Regions from separate parts of the Homo sapiens genome. Here regions 1, 2 and 3 are each linked to region 4. Evidence: fine-mapped expression QTL. A gene starts in region 4. Each other region holds a variant in brackets. All regions are shown on one strand. Distances are between the middles of the regions.

Region 1 (5,147 bases), 71 kb before region 4:
AAAAATTAAACACGGAATTACCATAGCATCTAGCAATTCCAATTCTAGGTATAGTCCCAAGAGAAGTGAAAACAAGGACTGGAACAGGTACTTATACACCAATATATTTCCATGCTGAGACCCCTAAAATAACAATAAAAGAATAAAACAGGTATCAACTATCCTACAAAGGCTGAGAGATGGGAGGACGAATGACAGCTGACCAGAGCCATCAGAACCACCTATGGAGGATGGCAGAGGGATGGATGGGTGGGCGCTGGCCTTGCTGGCTGGAGAGCCGACATTCACGTTCCTGCAGGTATTAAAACCAACAAGAAAAACTCCATTTGTGAGCTTGAGGCAACAAGTGTGACAGTGCACAGGCTCAGAGAATTGATTCCGTGTGTGTTACGGCACTAACTTTTTGTCACCATGGCCTCAGGACACTCAGACAAAGCATGTTTGGGATAATCCATTACTAAGCATAATTTGTCCCTGGACCAATTTTTGTTAAGTTGCTTTCCCCCTTTCCTGCAGCTGTTCTGCACGGCCAGGGAGAAGCCTCCAGAGATAAGGGTACTAAGGCCTCCAACTCCCTGGGCACAGAGCAGGGGACTTCCTGATGCTTATAGGTATAGCCCCAATACCACAGTTCTCTTGTATTCAGGGCTCTTCCCATTCTGGCCCCAGTGCAATACTCTGGGCACTGGGTTTGTAGGGTTCCTGAGGCAGGAATTCAAGGATGAAAAGAGCCAGTGTAGCCAGGTTGTAGGCATCATGCGCCCTCCTCCTCCACCACCACCCCACCCTCCAGCATGTGCAAACCAGGCGATAACTTCTCCAGAGACACAACAGAGACTTCACACTTTCCCAAAGCTGCTCTACTTTTCACATGATCCCCTAGAGAATGGAGTAGGCTCCTCGAGGGAGAGCACTCACTAGAACACCAGGCAGTTACTGGCACGCACATCAGTGCTGCTGCGTGGCTCTTCTTGCCCTGCAGCGTGGCTCTTCTTGCCCTGCAGCGTTGGAGCTGGCCTCGGCCACAAAGTGCCAGAGGGCTGCAGGCCACCGCCACTCACTCCTTGAGAACCACGGCACGTTTTGAAGGACACACCATCAACAGGAATGAGGAGCCCTTGCTGCTGTCACTGGAGTCAAGTTGGTCTTAACCATCCACTCCCACCCCCCTAGTAGCACCGAGCCCTCCTCCTTCCATCTTCTTTCATCAGAAAACTGGATCTTCCCACTTTCTCTCCCCCAGGATGCTGAGCTGCACAAGGGGAAGAACTATCCAGCTCATCTTTCTATCATAAGCACTGCACTCAGGGCTCAGCACCTGTGATAAGCAGAATTGTATGCCCCCAAATTCCTGTGTTGAAGTTCTAACCCCCAGCACCTCAGAACATGACTGTATTTGGAGAAATTTGAGGATAAGGCCTTTAAAGAGGAGATCATGCAAAAATGAGGCCATTCATTAGGCTGGGCCCCAGCCCAGTGTGACTGATATCTTTATAAAAGAGGTCAGGGGCCAGGCGCAGTGGCTCACGCCTGTAATCCCAGCACTTTGGGAGGCCAAGGCGGGTGGATCACGAGGTCAGGAGATCGAGACCATCCTGGCTAACATGGTGAAACCCCGTCTCTACTAAAAAAAATACAAAAAATTAGCTTGGCATGGTGGCACACGCCTGTAATCCCAGCTACTCGGGAGACAGAGGTGGGAGAATTGCTTGAACCCAGGAGTGAGAGGTTGCAGTGAGCCAAGACTGCACCACTGCACTCCAGCCTGGGCAACAGAGCGAGACTCCGTCTTGAAGAAAAAAGAAGAGGTCAGGACACAGAAAGACACCGGGGTGCAGGTGCATACAGGAAGGACCATGTGGGCTCAGAGCAAGGGGGCGGCCATCTCCTAGCCAAGGAGGGAGGGCTCCAGGGACCCCAATCCTGCTGGCACCTAGGCCTTGAACTTCCAGCCTCCAGACTGGGAGAAAATAACGTCTCATTGTTAAAGCCCCCAGCAAATGAATACAGAACCTAGGAAGGGGCAATGAATGAGTGATAGGTGGAAGGGCTAAGAAGAAAAGAGGAGGGAGAGGAAAGAGACGTGCTCAGATCTGTCTCTTCTGGACATCCGATCCCAGGCTGTCTCTTCAGTGGGCCCAAGTCCAACTAGCAGTCAGCTCAGAAATGATCCCTGAGGCATCGAAGCTTTCACAAGGAGGCCACAAAAGTCGGCTGCCTCTTTAAGACCTCCCTGTGGGACACAGC[G/A]ACATTGGATAAGGGACTCGCCACACAGCTTGCCAGCCCTACAGAGAGTCAACGCATCTGCCATGGCTTCCCGAAGGCAGTTATGGAGAGAAAGAACTTGAGTGTTCCCCTTCTGCTTGTCCAGCACCCCAAGCAGAGGGGCGGCCTGCAGTGAGGTGCCAAGGCCAAGCTAGCCCTGAGAGAACAGGTGGAGACGGGCACATAGGAGCCATCGCTCAGGGCCATTAGACCGTCTCGGGAAGGGAGAGGCCACAGGAGAATTGGGGAAGCTTATCTAAAAACAACGATTCCTTGTCCCAAAGAATAACCACTTTGGAAAACAGGTTGTCAATTTCTGGAAAAGTTAAACCTATACCTACCATATGATCCAGATGTTCCTAAGTATTTACTCAAGAGAAAAGGAAATCTCTGTCCATAGAGAGACTAGAAACAACCCACCTGCGCAAACAGTTGAGTGGGTAAACAAACTGTGGTCTATCGATACAGTGGGTCACTACTCAATAAGAAAAAGGAATGAACTACTGATACGCCAACAGTGTAGATGAATCTCAAAATCTTCATGCTGAGTAAGTAAAGGCACATGAGAAAGGGTACTTGCTATATGATTCCATCTATAGACAAATCCAGAAAATACAAGCAAATCCAGAAAATACAAGCGAATCCAGAGCGACAGAAAGCAAGAACAGTGGCTGCTTAGGGTTCAGGGGACAGGAAGGGATGACAGGGCAGGATTATAAAGGGGCATGAGTAAACTTTCAGCAGTGATGGATAACTTGTTTGTGGTATGTAGATTCACACGGGTATGGATATATCCTAACTTCTCAAATCATATTCTTTAAATATGTGTGGCTTACTGTCTGTCAATTACACTCAATAAAGTGGTTTTGAAAGAGTACGGATTCCTGGGTCCCAGCCTGGAGAGTCAAGGTCTGTTGTGGCAGGGGTGTCGCAGAGAGCAGAAGAGGGGGAGAGGGGTGTAGCCTCCACTGGCACCCTGGAGCAGGTACAGAATGCATGCAGAGATCATGCCTCAACATCAACAATTATTCCTCCTGGGAAACTACAGACATCGTTATTTTTATTTTGACATCAGGAAACCCCTTCGCGTCCTCCACAACTAGTTTGGAGAGCCACTGGGAAGCAAGAAGTTCACGCAGTCAGCCAGGTGTTGGGTGCCTCCACCCAGCATGGTGGTCTGTGGGCTCTCTTGGGGGTCTGGCCGAAATGATCAAGGTGTCGGCACCCGACACACAAGGTGCGGCAGCACCCAGCAAGAGAATCCCAATCAGCCAACCTTCTGGATCCATGACCCACTGATGCTGCACTTGAAGACATGGAGGTTAAAGATTTGTTCACCAAATTAGGCTAAAACGTGGTCACATGATTCAGAGGTTTGGCCAAGGCATCGGATTTTCCCAAATCACAAAGGCAATGCATGGATATAGGGATATATTAACTTCATGTGCCAATATAAATTGGTACAGAAGTGATGTGTAACGTAATAATAATTGATCATGGTACGACCCTTGTGAACTGCAGGAAGCTATTCCTCTTTCACACAAGAGCCCTAGAGGAGAAGTTAAGACTTGAGTTCAGGTCCCGCTGTGGCAGGACTCCCAAAAGTCCATCCCCGCTTTGACTTTGACAGTTGAATTCCAACTTCTTGGAGTTTTCTACCTTACCCTCCCAGCTGTGTTGCTAAAATGTCAAAGGCAGCTTCAAGAAAACCAAAAACACTCTCTGATTTCACTTTTAAAACGTCAGTGTGGCAATTCCTAAGGGATCTAGAACTAGAAATACCATTTGACCCAGCCATCCCATTACTGGGTATATACCCAAAAGACTATAAATCATGCTGCTATAAAGACACATGCACACGTATGTTTATTGCGGCACTATTCACAATAGCAAAGACTTGGAACCAACCCAAATGTCCAACAATGATAGACTGGATTAAGAAAATGTGGCACATATACACCATGGAACACTATGCAGCCATAAAAAATGATGAGTTCATGTCCTTTGTAGGGACATGGATGAAATTGGAAATCATCATTCTCAGTAAACTATAGCAAGGACAAAAAACCAAACACCACGTGTTCTCATTCATAGGTGGGAATTGAACAATGAGAACACATAGACACAGGAAGGGGACTGTTGTGGGGTGGGAGGAGGGGGGAGGGATAGCATTAGGAGATATATCTAATGCTAAATGACGAGTTAATGGGTGCAGCACACCAGCATGGCACATGTATACATATGTAACTAACCTGCACATTGTGCACATGTACCCTAAAACTTAAAGTGTAATAAAAAAAAGAAAAACTCACCATTTACAACAGAGTCTGAGCTGCATGCCTTTACAATCAAAACCCAGCGTATCCCAGCTCTGAGGTATGAAACTTTAATCTGGCAAACAGAGGAGGAAGGACACTGAGACCTCCTTCAAACCCAAATGAGGGGGATTCTCAAAACCTCCTGAGGAGCTAGCACAGCTATGGAAAATCGGGTCACTGTCTGTGTTTGCAGTATTGCTTAGCGAGACGGTCCCCAAACTCCTGCGGCCCTCCCTTTCCTCACTGATGTTGAATTCGGAACACTAAGCGCATAACACTCATTTTTACACATGCTCAGCCCTCCCCTTCCTCCAAACGCTGCATTTTTCTTCCAATGAGTAATTTCTGAATGCCTTCCAAACGCACCCATCTAATTTTTTGGAGTCTCATTGGGGTCATCAGTCAGAAACAGCAGCAGCCAAAAGCACAGTATGTCATGACTTTAAAACCATTACTCTGTGTGTGTGTGTGTGTGTGTGTGTGTGTGTGTGCGAGAGAGAGAGAGAGAGAGAGAGAGCGTGCACACGCACAAGCATGCCTTAGAGAATTCAGACTGGACCCCAG
Region 2 (5,147 bases), 28 kb before region 4:
CTACTAAAAATACAAAACTTAGCTGGGAATGGTGGCACATGCCTGTAATCCCAGCTACTCAAGTGGCTGAGACACGAGAATCACTTGAACCTGGGAGTCGGAGATTGCAGTAAGCCAAGATCGCGCGGCTGCATTCCAACCTGAGTGACAGAGTGAGACTCCGTCTCAAAAAAAAAAAAAAAAAAGGTAAGGCAAATACACTACAGAAGACAGGCCCTGAAACCAGAGGCTGGTCAGGTGATATAAATGAGTAAAGGGGACTTGATATGAGACAAGAGGAACTATTGTGGCCTGTGGTAAAAGGAAGAGACTGGAATCTTGCCACAAAAGAGACAATCAATATTTAACTGCACTTTGGGAGGCCAAAGTGGGTGGATCACCTGAGGTCAGGAGTTCGAGACCAGCCTGGATAACATGGCAAAACCCCAGCTCTACTAAAAATACAAAAATTAGTCAGGTGCAGTGGCGTGTGCCCAGCTACTTGTGAGGCTGAGGCAGGAGAATTGCTTGAACCTGGGAGGCAGAGGTTGCAGTAAGCCAAGATCATGCCACTGTACTCCAGCCTGAGCAACAGAGCAAGACTCCGTCTCAAAAAAAAGAAAAAAATTAACTGCAGACAAATGCTGCTACACAAAAATTCTTACCTAATGTCGCCAAAACTTTGAATTATCTAAAAGAAGTCTTAAATCAGAAAGGTTACGTGAAATTTCCCGATTTTTAAAATAGTGTGTAGGGGCCAGGCGCAGTGGCTCACGCCTGTAATCCCAGCACTTTGGGAGGCCAAGGCGGGCGGATCACGAGATCGGGAGATCGAGACCATCCTGGCTAACACAGTGAAACCCCATCTCTACTAAAAACACAAAAAATTAGCCAGGTGAGGTGCGGGCGCCTGTAGTCCCAGCTACTCGGGAGGCTGAGGCAGGAGAATGGCGTGAACCCGGGAGGCGGAGCTTGCAGTGAGCCGAGATCGCGCCACTGCACTCCAGCCTGGGAGAGACAGCGAGACTCCGTCTCAAAAAAAAGAAAAAAAAAATAGTGTGTAGGTCAGTTTGCAACCTCTGGGCTAGACAATAAGAACTCCTGACCTCAGGTGATCAGCCTGCCTCGGCCTCCCAAAGTGCTGAGATTACAGGACAATAAGGAGCCCACTGCAACCTGGGCCCTGGCACTATTTGGCACCGTTAATATCTGCACAAGAGAACACAGTCCAGCAGCAGCAGCCACGGTCTAAGGGATGGGGGACAGCCAGGCATGGGAATGGGTATATGGCCCAAGAGAGGCTCCACCCAGGGGTTCGGGCCCCTGAACCATCTGGAACTTGGCTGTAAACCTCCATTAGCCTTTGGTTACCTGCCAGCCCCTCAGGAATCTCCTGGGGCAGAATCCAGGTGCTCCTAAAGTCACCATTTACACAAAGTACTTATTGAGCACCTATTGTCTACAGACATACACAAAAAGAGCAATAAAAAGACACAGGCCCTGTTCCCATGAAACTGATGGGCTGTCAGTCCCCAAGTCCACCTTATTTCTCAAGTAAATCCTAAATATAACACATTTTCAAAAAGGAAAAAAAAACTGTCAGAAATTACTCAAACAGATGTCCCTGTACCTTCACGTTCAAATGATTCATGCTTTTTGTTATTGAGCCAATTCATGAGCTTCATGGAGTCTGAACAACCCGAGTGTGCCTTGTAAGGGGCCCTCAATGAAAAAACAACTGGTCCCAGACTCCCACTCTGCAGCACTTGGGACACAGCCAGCCAGCCCACAAACAGCAGTGCATTTGCTTTTCTCTTCACCGAGGAACTCATTTACATAGACTTGATGGTGTGATTTTGTTTCTAAACCTGGCTCTTTTGCTTTAACATTTTCCAATTACTTACATGCTAGTGAGTTCCAGGATATGGTTTTCCAGGGATAATAGGCAAATCAAGTTGCTATTATTCTCTGTCCACCTTGTTCCCCCTCCTGATTTGTTTCCCTAGTATAAATCTACACATGAAGAACATCACCACTGATGAAAGCCAGATTTAGAAATTACACTTATCCCAGCCTGGGCAACATGGTGAAACCGTCTCTACAAAAATAAAAAAAATAAAAAAAAATTAGCCAGTCCTGGTGGTGTGCACCTCTAGTCCCAGCTACTCAGAAGGCTGAGGTGGGAGGATCACCCAAGCCTGGGAAGGCAGAGGTTGCAGTGAGCTGAGATGGTGTCACTGCACTCCAGCCTGGGCAACAGAGTGAGACTCCATCTCAAAAAAATTAATTAATTAGGCCGGGCGTGGTAGCTCATGTCTGTAATCTCAGCACTTTGGGAGGCCGAGGCAGGCTGATCACCTGAGGTCAGGAGTTCGAGACCAGCCTGGCTAACATGGTGAAATGCTGTCTCTACTAAAAATACAAGGCGTGCACCTATAATCCCAGGTATTCGGGAGGCTGAGGCAGGACAATCACTTGAACCCAGGAGGCAGAGGTTGCAGTGAGCCGAGATCGTGCCACTGCACTCCAGCCTGGGTGACAGAGCAAGACTCTGTCTCAAAAAATAATAAGAAAAGAAAAGAAGAAAGAAAAGAAAAGAAAAAAGGGGAGGGAGAAAAGAAAAGAATAGAAAAGAAAAGGAGGGGAGGGGAAGGAGAAAAGAAAAGAAAAAATTACAGTTATCACCCATTCTTGGCTTCCAAATTAAATTTAAGACACATTATCATTTCAAATCCACCTGAAAAAAGTAACCCCCAAATGTACTTTTGCCTCCTACTGACGGTGGAACTTGGGCAAGATTCCTAAGTCTTCTGTGCCTCAGCTTCCTCGTTTATAAGATGGAATTAACCAGTTGTACTTGCCTCATAGGTTTGTGGCAGAATTGAAATAAGACATGTAGAGTAAGAATGAACTACTTTTAGTAATATTTTTTGTCAACACCAACGTGAGGAACGTGGTGGTTAAAAAAGCACAGACTCAACGGGCTGGGTTCAAACCCTGGCTCTTCCATCAACAACTGTGACCTTGGGAAAGTTTAGGAACCTCCCTGAGCTTCTGTTTTCTCATCTGTGGAATTAAGATAAAAATAATATTTACCTCCGAGGGAGGCTGTAAGGAGG[T/C]TCTGACATGCATAAGCAGTGTATTAGGTTTACAGCTATTTTGGTGATGATGAAACCAAGGCTAATGGGAGGTGGCACCCAGCCCTAGAGCAGCTGGCTATATCATACGTTCACAGATATGCCCAGGCCCCCACAAGGAAATAGATGGGGGATCAAACCAACATGTGTGTGGACAGAATCCACTTCCGGACTCACACAGCTATTGTTCCTAACACCTTGGGTTCACATTTCCATGGTGACTGGGATGTTTGTTTCCTAATCTTTCTTTGCTACAGTTGGAGTCTCACAAGGGCAGCCAGGTTAAGGATTGTATTCTTTGTGGCAAATATCAAATACACCTGGCCCTCTGCTCAAGCAAAGCCTGGGACAAAGGTGCACATCCAGCCTTCCTTGACTCAGGGGGCTGGCTCCTCCTGACCCAGGCCCCATGTCTCTGGCCTGCTGTCTTGGGTTCTTTAAGGCAGGTATCCCCTAAGGATGTGACTTTTAACCCTGAATGAGTCAGGATCCTTTGACTGTAAGTGGCAAGTCACACGTTCACCCAAACAGGAAACCAGGGGGGTACATCTGGCCCCCAGAATGGCTGGACACCAAAATGAAACAATGCAATGAGGACTCTCTCTCTCTCCCCCACCCCATCAGCCTTTGATTCAACATCGTGCTATGCCGCCTTTATTCTCAGATAGGCTGTGGCAACGGCCACCAAGAGCTCCAAGTTTCCCTCCACCAGCTTGGCAACCCCAGCAGCAGAAGAGCAGCCCTTTTGGAACCAAGAATCCCATCCCCATCCCTGAGGCCAAGCAGAGAATCAAGGCTCTGCACAGCCAGGGCTGAGTCATGTGCTCACTGATGGAACCAATGAGACATCATCTCCACCCAACCTTGTGGATTAAATACAGGGAGGAGTGGTCCCCCAAGAAAAATGGAGGTGCTGTTGCCAGAAGAAGAGGGGGTAGATGTGGGCCAGAAAAACAACAGACACCGTCTGCTCCCACATTTCTTCAAAGCTACTGCCAGGTGCTTGCCTCTGGCATGGAGGAGCCCTTCACCCTCCAAGACTTCACACTGGCCATTTGGCCACTGAGGGAGGCCCAGACCAAGCTGACACCTTTCCCCAGAGCCAGCCACATCTCCTGACTGCCCTGCAGCATCACCTGGGTGCAAATATTATAGTTTTTTATCTTTTAGCTGACACATAACTACGTATTTATGGGGTACATGGTGATGTTGCAATTCATATGATGTACAGTGATCAGATCAGGGTAATTAGCATATCTGTCATCTCAAATGTTTATCATTTATTTGTGCTAGTGTATTAGTCTCTTTTCACACTGCTGATAAAGACATACCCAGGACTGGGCAATTTACAAAAGAAAGAGGTTTCATTGGACTTTCAGTTTCACATGGCTGGGGAAGCCTCATAATCATGGTGGGAGACAAGTAGGAGCAAGTCACGTCTTACATGGATGGCAGCAGGCAAAGAGAGCTTGTGCAGGGAAACTCCCCTTTATAATAACCATCAGATCTTGTGAGACTTACTATCACGAGAACAGCATGGAAAAGACCTGCCCCCCATGATTCAATTACCTCCCACGGGCCCCTCCCACAACACGTGGGAATTCAAGATGAGATGTGGGTGGGAACACAGCCAAACCATATCAGTTAGGAACATTCAATATCCTCCTTCTAGCTATTTGAAACTACATATTAGTGTTAACTACAGTCATTCTACAGATATAGAACACTAGGAGTTTCTTCCTCCTATCTAGCTATAATTTTGTGTTGTTAAACAAACCTTTCTCTATCCCCTTCCCCCTACCCTTCCCAGCCTCTAGTATTATCTGTTCTACTTTTTACTTCTATGAATCAACTTTTTTTTAGCTTCCACGTATAAGTGAGAACACATAGCATTTAACTTTCTGTGCCTGGTTTATTTCACTTAGCATAATGCCCTCCAGTTCCATCCATGTTGCTGCGAATGGCAAGACTTCATTCTTCAGGGCCGAATAGATTCCCGTTGTGTATATATGCCACATTTTCTTTATCCAT
Region 3 (5,147 bases), 70 kb after region 4:
CTTACCAGCCTATGCAGTAGACAGGGCCCAGTACATGGAGTCTGGAACCCACATATGCCCACTGCTACCACCCAGCGCAGTCCAACAGCATCCCCTGCTGGCACTGCCTGGCCCATCTCCTGCCTACTCCCTCCGGTCCACGTTCCAGCCTGCTCTTCTAAACCACACCTGCTGAACAACTGTTTTTTTTTCTTTTGAGACGGAGTCTCACTCTGTCACCCAGGCTGGAGTGTAGAGTGCAGTGGCGCGATCTTGGCTCACTGCAACCTCCACCTCCTGGGTTCAAGTGATTCTTGTGCCTCAGCCTCCTGAGTAGCTGGGACTACAGGCATGTACCAGCCACCACGTCCAGCTAATTTTTGTTTTGCTTTTTTTAAGTAGAGATGGGGTTTCACCATGTTGGCCAGGCTGTCATCTCCTGTCCCCGCGATCCACCCACCTTGGCCTCTTTAAGTGCTGGGATTACAGGCCTGAGCACCGCACCGGGCCTGAAAAGCCTTAAATGGCTTCCCAGTGCGTCAAGATCAAGCCCACCTTCCTCACCACAGCAAGCCTTTCCCATACTCGTATCCTGCCACTCCCTCCCCTCCCTGTAGACCCTCCAGGTCCTCACATGGGCTGTGGTCTCTTCTCAGGGCCTTCACACAGCTGTTTCCTCTGGTCTGAGTAGATGTCTACTTAATGCTTCAGGCCTGACTTTGACATTGATCACTCCCTCTGGGAGGCCTTCCAGGATTGACAGCACTGAACTGGGTCCCCATCTATGTGCTCCAATACCACTCTGTTTCACACATCACGCCTAGCACTAGCCACACTACAGCAGCCTGTTTGCTGACCCTATTCCCCAAGCGGACTGTGCGCAGCACCGCGAGAGCGGGAGCTGCTGCCCATCAGGGTAGTTCAAAATACAACACAGGCATGGCACAGAGTAGGTACCTCAACATTTGAGTACTGGACTAATGCTTCCAACACACCCTACCCCACATTACCAAAGAATTTATCTGTGGTTTTGTTTCCCCAAGGCCAGTATGATGGTTCATTTCCAAATTTGGTGAGGAAAGTTTCATAACAGCCTAAAAGGACAAAATCAGTAAATGGCTCAGTTTGACCATAGGCTGACACTAACCAAAATTAAAGTTAGAGAACAAGATGGGCAACAGCTGCAGGTGGAGGTTTAACCGCTAACAGATGACAGAAATGTGAAGGCATCTTCCAAGGACAGGAGACTGAAGTTACAGAGGCAGCTCCAGGAAGGCGAGTGGAGGAGGGCTAGGGCGGGAGGAAAGGGTGTGTGGGGGACGGCTTGAACTTTTTTTTTTTTTTTTTTTTGAAACCAAGTCTCGCTCTTTTGTCCAGGCTGGAGTGCAATGGTGCAGTCTCGGCTCACTGCAACCTCCGCCTCCCTGGTTCGAGCAATTCTCCTGCCTCAGCCTCCCAAATAGCAAGTAGCTGGGATTACGGGCATGTGCCACCACACCCAGCTAATTTTTGTACTTTTAGTAGAGATGGGGTTTTACCACGTTGGCCAGGCTAGTCTCAAACTCCTGATCTCAGGTGATCCGCCCACCTCGGCCTCCCAAAGTGCTGGCATTACAGGCATGAGCCACCGCGCCCTTGGCCGTCTTGAACTTTCAGACAGGTCTTTTAATAATTCCCTAGCGCCCTCACAGTTGAAAAAAGGTATTTTTTCCCCATTTTCTTTGGAATGAGCAGTATTAGAGAAAGAGGGGACAATTCGTCACCCACCTAAAAGTAGTTGAATATCAAAATATATCAATTTTATTTCTGCATCATAAATTTATAATTTTAACAACTTTGATCATTAGCTAATATAGTAATACAAAAAAATGAGAAAAAAGATGTTAATATTCCTCATTTCCATAAAGTGCAGATTTAATTTTCAATTATTTGCCTTAGTAAACATTGTCTTATTTCAGGTACTCCCTGCCCTCACTCAAAAAAAAGGGAGGGTGTTTAATTTTTATTGAACAAATATGTAATACCAAGAAAAAGATGAAAGACCCAATAATGTTTTTTGCAAACATGTTTCCAGGTAAGATTTCCAAGGACATC[A/G]GTACTGAGTGAAAAATAATCCTTTACAGTCAATATGAATGAATACACTAACAAGTACATCATTTAGATCTCCATGCTTATTTGGCAATTCCAGTTATGAAAAAGGTACATAAATAGTACAAACAATTGGCTTGACATGTGGCCAAACTACTTTCATCGAAGTTGCTGGAAGCCTTTCTCTGGTTTTGGCCCCTGTAGGAAGTTAATCTCATATTCCCTTAGCAATAATATAAGGTCACTGTTTCAGTCCTACACACTTTTATATTCAATGGGCTTCTTAGTTTATCACATAAGGACTGGCACTTTTTTCAAAAGAATATTGCTAACAGGGTTAAATGAGTGCTAATGGCTGAACGTTTGCCAAATGCTTACTTCTGCGATAGTATAAATATGGATTATTAAAGTTGTCTACTCAAGTATAAAATATATGCAAAACTCTCATAGGCAAAATGTTCAAAGGCCGGGAAAAACCTTTTTTTTTTTTTTTTTTTTTTAACTTTTACGAGAAAGTGCAACTGCAGGGTCTCTTGAATGATCTTCTAGACAGTTCCGCAGAAAATTAGCAGTTTGGCTCAGAAAGTAGAGTTCCTCAGGAGGAATTAAAGTTCTTCCTAGAAGAATACAAAGCAACGTTTCAGGCAGCTTTCTGAAAATAAACCATTAGCTTATGCCTACACAGCGAGACAAACTGGAACGTGTAATAATGAAGGCTTTCACATTTGTTGTGATGTGCTTTTTTTCTCTTACCCCAGGACCTCTAGCTGTTCTGTAATGTTACATAAAGTAGTTATAGCACTTCGTCCAGCACTGACAGCAGGCAGGAAGCTAATCAGCGAGGAGAAAATCGGAAGTGTGTTCATGTGTTTCATTGTTTTTCAGGTCAAATCTCAATACTTGCAAATAAATCATTAAAAAGATATAACAGTTTCTCTGTTATTTTCAGGACTTCATGTAGTGAGTGGGTAATCAGAGTGAAAGAGGGCTTTCTATCAGTCATCAGTGATACGTTCTGTCACACAGTCAGATTTTCAGCATTTGTTCGGCTGCTGCTAGATGATAAAGGAAGTTTTCTGTTGCTGGTGGAAATCGTTTTTGCTTTAGCGCCTCCAAATTAAGGACTCTCTTTTCTCCATCAGCCGAAACTTCTGAAAACGGTGCTAGGTTGGTAAAGATTTCTCTTGTTTTTAGAGCAATATCCTTTAATAGAACAGGAAAATATATGCAACATGTTAGTATCCGAAATTTGAATATTTAGTCTCTAGAATTCTTCCTATTTTTTCCAGACTGTTTATAAACTATGAAAAATGAGCTTGGCGTGGTGGCTCATGCCTGTAATCCCAGCACTTTGGGAGACCGTGGCAGGAGAATGTCTTGAGTCAGGAGTTAGAGAATGCAGTGAGCCATGATTGCACCACTGCACTCCAGCCTGGGCAACCCTGTCTCAAAAACGAACAACAAAAAAGATAACTCCTTTTTTTGTTGTTGTTTTCGAGACAGGGTCTCGCTCTGTTACCCAGGTTGCAGTGCAGTGGTTCAATCATGGCTCACTGCAGCCTCGACCTCCCAGGCTCAAGTGATCTACCCACCTCAGCCTCCTGAGTAGCTGGGACTACAGGCATGCGCCACCACACCCAGCTAATTTTTAAATACTTTTTGTAGAGATGGGGTTTCACCATGTTGCCCAGGCTGGTCTCAAACTCCTGGGCTCAAGCAATCTGCCCACCTTGGCTTCCCAAACTGCTGGGATTATAGATCTGAGCCACTGCATCTGGCCTGATAATTCTTTTTAAAGAAAAAATTAGGAAAAATGAAACAAAATTAACTTAGAAAAATCATAGTGTGTGGTTTTGGTTTTTTTTTTTTTTTTTTTTTTTTTACAATTTTAGTCATTTTCTGAGTGTATAATTCAGTGGCATTAAGTACATTTGCAGCGTTGCACAACCATCACCACTATTTCCAGCACGTTTCACCATCACAAACAGAAACTCTACCCATTACACAATAACCCCATTTCCCCTCGCTTAGCCCCTGGGAACCTCTATTCTGCCGTCTAACTCTGTGAATTTGTCTGCTCTAGATAGCTCATATAAGTGGAATCATACAACATTTACCCTTTAGTGTCTGGCTTATTTCATTAGCATGGTTTCAAGGTTCATCCATGCTATAGCATGTATCAGAATTCTATTCCTTTTCTCCCCCCCAACAAAAGCCACATTCAAAACATTCCATTCCTTTTTAAGCTGAGTAATATTCTACTGTATATAAAGACTACATTTTGCTTGCCCATTCATCTGCTGAAGGACACTGGGTTGCTTCTGCCACGTTTTGGCTACTGTGAGTAACACTGCTATGGATATTTCCATACGAGTACAGTCATGCACCACATAATGACGTTTTGGTCAACCAGGGACCACATTTACAATGGTAGTCCCATAAGATGATAATGCTATATTTTTACAGTATCGTTTCTTTTCTTTTTCTTTTTTTTTTTTTTTTTTTTTTTTGAGACAGTTTTGCTCTTGTTGCCCAGGCTGGAGTGCAATGGCACAATCTCGGCTCGCTGCAACCCCCGCCTCCCGGGTTGAAGCGATTCTCCTGCCTCGGCTTCCCAAGTCGCTGGGATTAACAGGCGCCCACCACCACACCCGGCTAATTTTTGTATTTTTAGTAGAGATGGGTTTCACCATGTTGGCCAGGCTGGTCTTGAACTCCTGACCTCAGGTGATCCGCCCGCCTCGGCCTCCCAAAGTGCTGGGATTACATGCATGAGCCACCGGGCCTGGCCGAGTCCCTGCTTTCAATTATTTTGGGTATATACCCAGAAACAGCATTGCTAAATCATATGGTAACTTGATGTTTAACTTTTTGAGAAATGCTGCTATTGTTTTTTTGAAGGAATCTCTTCCCAAAAGTCCTCTTCTGCCTGGGATAAGTAACCCGGCACCTGCCACGCAGGCTTTATTCCTTTTGGGTGGCTGAGGACTCACTAAAGCACTCATTAAAATCATGTCTTCTGGCCAGGCATGGTGGCTCACGCCTGTAATCTCAGCACTTTGGGAGGCCGAGGCAGGTGG
Region 4 (5,147 bases):
GAGGGCTGTTTTCTCTGCTTCCTCCCTTTCAGGACCATTCCCCAACCCAGAGGAGAGCCTACCAGCACCCACCTAGATCCTGTCCACTAAAAATGTCAGGTTAGGAAAAAAAAAAAAAAAAAAAAAAAAAAACCACACACACACACACAGCTCAGGCCTTAGAACCTGAAGTCACCAAGTAACAAGCCTCTCCTAAAAATTTATTCCCACCAAAGCTAAGCAATGGGAGGGAGACTAACCTGAATATTTTAAACTCTGCTGGGGTTTTCAAAGCACTGCCTCCCTTCGGGGCTTCTGAAATAAACCTTCTTGCCCACTGGCTGCTTTAGAGTGACAAGTGACGACGAAAGTAAGACACGAATGCCGGGTTGAGTTGCTGAAACGCTGCCCACGGAAGGCTATGCATCACCTACCCCCACAGTGTGTAGGGAGCCACAAGGTGATGGAACGGGCTGAATAAACACGAATCGTTTTATTGCTGGCCAGAAATTCTTCCCTTCATTCATCAAAGTAGGTGAATGAAAATATTAAGCAGGTAAGACATTTTCATGGGCTGCTCACCGAGTATCCTTCTAAACTCAAGCCCTTACTCAGTCTGCCTTCTACCTTGTATCAAATAAAGCGTTCTCCCGTGAAAGGGAAAAACCTCTTCCCCTTTTATGAAAAAGGTCGCACACTAGAGCTCAAATCTTGACCAGAAAAAAAAAAGGAAAATATGCGACATAAATTCCAGGTATTCCTAAATACATATGTTTACATGGACACAACACAATCATTTCAGGAAGCACCCAAGTTTCTGCCTCCCCCCCCTTTTTTCTGTTTTTCATCAAAAGGAAGAGTCAAAATATGCGTTCTTAGGGTTTGACTCAGGATCTTACACACTCCATTTAGACAATATTTCCTGCCAGCTAAATGCAGGAAATCTAATGATTTGCATAGAAAACGTATCTAAAGCACCAGCACACTTACCTTTCTTTTCTTAACTGAGCCAAAATCTAACAATTTCAGTTATCACACTCCCAGAAAAGAAAAACCTGAAATACTGAATTATTTTCTAGGTGGTCTGTACAGCCATCCTTTGATAATTCTATGAAAAGGCTAATTCCTCAACATCTGACTTTGCCTTTAAAAGGCTTCCTTCCACACGACGGGATTTCCCTAAGAAACATCCCAGCGGATGGTTTCCAGCAATAGTCTATATCAACTCAGCCTGCGCAGGCAAAGACTTGGCTTCTGCTCATTCCACCCCCGCCCCTCGAACACACACACCAGTTCACACAGAACCATCCCGGGCCGACTTGAAACGCTATTTTATGTGCATGTTTGCTCGTCGCTCCCCGAATGAATGCTTTTCCAACTGACCTTTCAACAGCTGCCGAGATGGCACGCTCTGCAGGGCGAGCGCTGGAAACTAGGAGATATGTTAGCATCCAAATCCCTGCAACCTTCTCAGCCCAAGTCCAGATTCTCTGAGCCCCAAGGCAGGAACCCTGAAGGGTCTGCAGAGCCGCTCTCCGAAGTGTCCTGCTCGCGACCCACTCGCCGGCAGCGGGCATCCTGCACGGGCGCAGCCCCAGCCCGCACGCCACCCGACACCCGCACCCTGGCCCGCGGCGGACGCGCCGGGCACGTACCGGCCCTGCCTCTTACCTTCCCTGGCTTTCAGCAAGACCGTGTTGGCCACGATGTTTTCCAGCTCCATTGACAGTCGGCGGTCAGCAACGGAGCCGGCCGGCGGGGCTGTCAGCGCCTGGGGTGCTGCCGCTGCTGCTGCCGCTGCTCGGGCTGCCGCCGCTGCTGCCGGAGCCGGGGGAGCCAGCAGCCCGCCTTGCCTACCGCATTATTCCTGCTCTCAGCCCAAGAGTTTCCCCCTCTGCAAAGAGGAGCCGCCGCCGCCGCCGCCGCCGCCGCCGCTTCTTCCTCCCTCTGTGTCCCCCCTCCCCCCTCCCTCAACACGCTCCCCCCCACCCCCCACCCTCCGCGTGTCTCTGTCACTCCATTCTCCTCCCCTCCGGCTCCCTCGGATGCTTTAATGCCTCGGATGCTTCTGCCTCCCCTCAGTCCCTCCCGGGGGTGTGGTACTAGCAGGCTCGGGCGGCCGCACTGCGCAAGCGCCGGCCCAGGCGCGCCTCCTGCCTCGGTGCTCGCGGCGCGGGGCCTGCTGGGAGCTGGAGTCCTCCCGGCCGCGCGGCGCCGGGGCTGAGCTGGGCTGGCGCGCGGCTGTCGGAGCGAGGACCCGCCCCGGGACGGCACCGAAAGCGAAGGCGGGCACCGCCCGGCCGACAGGCGACTCAAAGGCGGCCCAGCCAAGCCGAAGTCCCCAGCACCCCCCCGCAGGCTCCCGCTTGCCCCCTTCCCGCCCCGTCGCCAGCCCGGAAAGCGGAGTGCACGGGCCCCGGTGACGGCGCGTGAAGCGCCGCGGCCCGGCAGGAGCCAGTGCGGGTCCCGAGCCGTGCTCGGAGTGGGAGGGCTGCCAGCTCGGCCGCGCGCCACAGCCCGCTTCCTCCGGTCCGCGCCAGGCCCGCGAGGGTCTGAGTCCCGGGTCAGTGACGCGCGCCCAGGGTCCCCGCACGCGGCGGCGGCCGGCCCGGCCTGGCCCCTGCCCAGCGTCTCCCACGCGGCGCCTCGGGCCGCGGACAAAGATGCACTTTGTTTCCTCGGAGGGCGCGAAGGGCTCTGCGGGTCGGCTGCGACCCGGCGCTGGCTGCCCGCGCTGCTCTCGGTGCGACCCGAGCGCCCCCCGCCGGCCGCGGTGCGCGGCGCGGGGTCTACGCGGACGGCGCCTGGGGCTCAGGGTCCAGCGTGGGAAGCTGCTTATTCTGTGAATAAACTGCCTTCCAGCACACCCGGCCAGCAAATCCACGAGCCTCCCTGCAGCCAAACCCAGCCAGATTAAGTAATAAAAACGCAGACGGAGTCGCCGGAGTCTCCGCCGTGGGGAGCGTTAATGAGTAACAGCCAGGCCAGCGCCAAGCCGGCGTGGGATTAACGTTTTTAAATTCCGGTCTTATTTATTTTGGGGCTCTTAGCTCCTTCCAGTGTTATGCTCAGAACATCAGACTCCAGGTCTGTGCTCAGCCCCGTTTCCTTGCTCCCTCCGCTCCGAAGGCCCCACTCCTGGAAATGGGCTGTCTTCGGTCACCCGGGATCTGCCACGAGTGTCCTACAGCTGGGGGCGGGGCAGGCAGGCCCCAAAGAACAATGAGGCCTTTGCCTCCTCTGCATCCTGCGGGCCGGATATCCGTTCAGAAGCCGACTCTGGGCCTTCTCTGTCCAGAAGGAGGAAACCCTCTGTCCCCAGGGCTGCCAGGAAGTCGCAGGGAGGTGCCGAGAGAAACAGAGAACAGTTATTATGCATTGGAGAATATAAAGAAATCAATAAACCTTCCAGGCCTTGGAAACTGGTCTGGTCACTGATTGTAACAACCCAAGATTACCTGCTTTCCTGGGGGAGTATACCCACCACCACCACTTCCTGGTGTCTAGACTTGGGTCAGTGAGTCTCCCAGGGCCTCATTTATCTTGTCTGCAAAATGGGGGCAACAACAGTTTACCTGTCAGAAGGCGGAGGGCTCAGCGGGTAACTTTTCAGGCACTTACCACTCCAGGAATTACTGTTCTAAGCAATCCAGGCTTGGTCTTTGCTACATATTCACGTGCCTAGAGCCCTAACCTTTAATGAAAGGATCTCTCTCAGACAGCGAGACCCCTAAAGCTGGCAGCTCCTAGAGCCCTCCACCAACCACGCTGGTCACTTGCTGGCAGCATAGGGCCTGATGAAGCCCGAAGTTTGTTTATTCGGCTAACATAAAAAAAAAAAGAAAGAAAATTTTTGAATGCCTTTAGATGGCTTATGCACCTTAACAATTTTCTTGGGCCGGGCGCGGTGGCTTACGCCTGTAATCCCAGCACTTTGGGAGGCCGAGGCGGGAGGATCACGAGGTCAGGAGATCGAGACCATCCTGGCTAACAGTGAAACCCTGTCTCTACTAAAAATACAAAAAAAAAATAGCCGGGCGTGGTGTTGGGCTCCTGTAGTCCCAGCTATTCAGGAGGCTGAGGCAGGAGAATGGCGTGAACCCGGGAGACGGAGGTTGCAATGAGCCGAGATCGCGCCACTGCACTCCAGCCTGGGCGACAGAGCGAGACTCCGAACCAAAAAAAAAAAAAAAAAAAAAAAACAATTTTCTCAAAGGTTGTTTTTGTTTGTTTTTTTGTTTTGTTTTGTTTTGAGACAGTTACTCTGTCACCCAGGCTGGAGTGCAGTGGCCCAATCTCGGCTCACTGCAACCTCGGCCTCCCAGGTTCAAATGATTCTTGTACTTCAGCCTCCCAAGTAGCTGGGATTACAGGTGTGTGCCACCATGACTGGCTAATTTTTGTATTTTGAGTAGAGACGGGGTTTCGCCATAATGGCCAGGCTGGTCTTGAACTCCTGGACTCAAGTGATCCAACCCGCCTCTGCCTCCCAAAGTGCTGGAATTACAGGCATAAGCCACCATGCCTGGCTCAAAGTTTCATGAGCATACAAATCACGGGGGATCTTGTTAAAATGCAGATTGCATTTGGATAGATCTGGGGTGGTTTCTGAGATGTTGCTCTTTCTAACAAACTCCAGGGCTCTGTCGATCCTCGTGGTCAGTAGACCACACTCAGAGTTGAAAAGCTTTCTAGTTTACCGTAACTCCCTATTGTCTTATACCCAGCCCAAGTCACTAGTGATTTTATTTATCTGGCCTGTATAGACATTTAAGTTTTCCATCCTGGGAACCCCTGCCTCTCCCTCTCATTTTACAGATGTGAAACAGACCCAAAGTAAGTGAGTTGGCATGGTCACTCAGCAAGTTAGTGTTAGACTATTTTTTTGTCCACTACAAGCTGTTGCATCCTGCCTACACAAATACATGGTTGTACATCAGGTTTTTGTGCCTCTATGAGGAAATTCAGACACTCCAATGCAAGAATGGAACAATAATGGCTAGCATTTACTCAACACCAACTGTGGGCCAGGCTCTTGTGGTCTTTTAAATGGATTATCTCCTTGAACACAATATCCAGATGAGGTAGGGAACACAGGCCTATTTTATAGATAAAGCACCAGGTTAAGAAAGGTTTTATAGGCCGGGCACGGTGGCTCACGCCTGTAA

What was found. PIP is the estimated chance that this variant, and not a neighbour inherited with it, causes the effect.
Region 1: its variant is the best candidate, but not a certain one, in a credible set for the expression of GRK5 in whole blood (INTERVAL, PIP 0.69).
Region 2: its variant is the best candidate, but not a certain one, in a credible set for the expression of GRK5 in nasal epithelium (TOPMed, PIP 0.78).
Region 3: its variant is the best candidate, but not a certain one, in a credible set for the expression of GRK5 in whole blood (TOPMed, PIP 0.67).

What each region holds. Positions count from the first base shown.
Region 1 is chr10:119,275,541-119,280,687 of GRCh38, reverse strand. The region is part of intron 1 of GRK5 (G protein-coupled receptor kinase 5); the gene reads right to left. Among named protein-coding and RNA genes, the nearest start is that of GRK5-AS1, 61 kb to the left of the region's middle. The variant G/A (reference allele first, on the strand shown) is at 2,248.
Region 2 is chr10:119,232,101-119,237,247 of GRCh38, reverse strand. All of the region lies in intron 1 of GRK5 (G protein-coupled receptor kinase 5), which reads right to left. Among named protein-coding and RNA genes, the nearest start is that of GRK5-IT1, 26 kb to the right of the region's middle. RefSeq lists enhancers at 1,615-1,674, 4,637-4,931. The variant T/C (reference allele first, on the strand shown) is at 3,099.
Region 3 is chr10:119,134,594-119,139,740 of GRCh38, reverse strand. It overlaps DENND10 (DENN domain containing 10), which reads right to left. Exons shown (of 9, transcript NM_207009.4): 9 at 1,757-3,270. The coding sequence ends at 3,094. Among named protein-coding and RNA genes, the nearest start is that of SFXN4, 29 kb to the left of the region's middle. The variant A/G (reference allele first, on the strand shown) is at 2,074.
Region 4 is chr10:119,204,473-119,209,619 of GRCh38, reverse strand. GRK5 (G protein-coupled receptor kinase 5) reads right to left here and starts at 2,049. Exons shown (of 16, transcript NM_005308.3): 1 at 1,651-2,049. The coding sequence starts at 1,702. It overlaps GRK5-IT1 (GRK5 intronic transcript 1), which reads right to left and starts at 1,199. Exons shown (of 2, transcript NR_186528.1): 1 at 970-1,199. RefSeq lists silencers at 1,623-1,672, 1,723-1,792, 2,003-2,832 and enhancers at 3,173-3,282, 3,303-3,352, 3,463-3,542.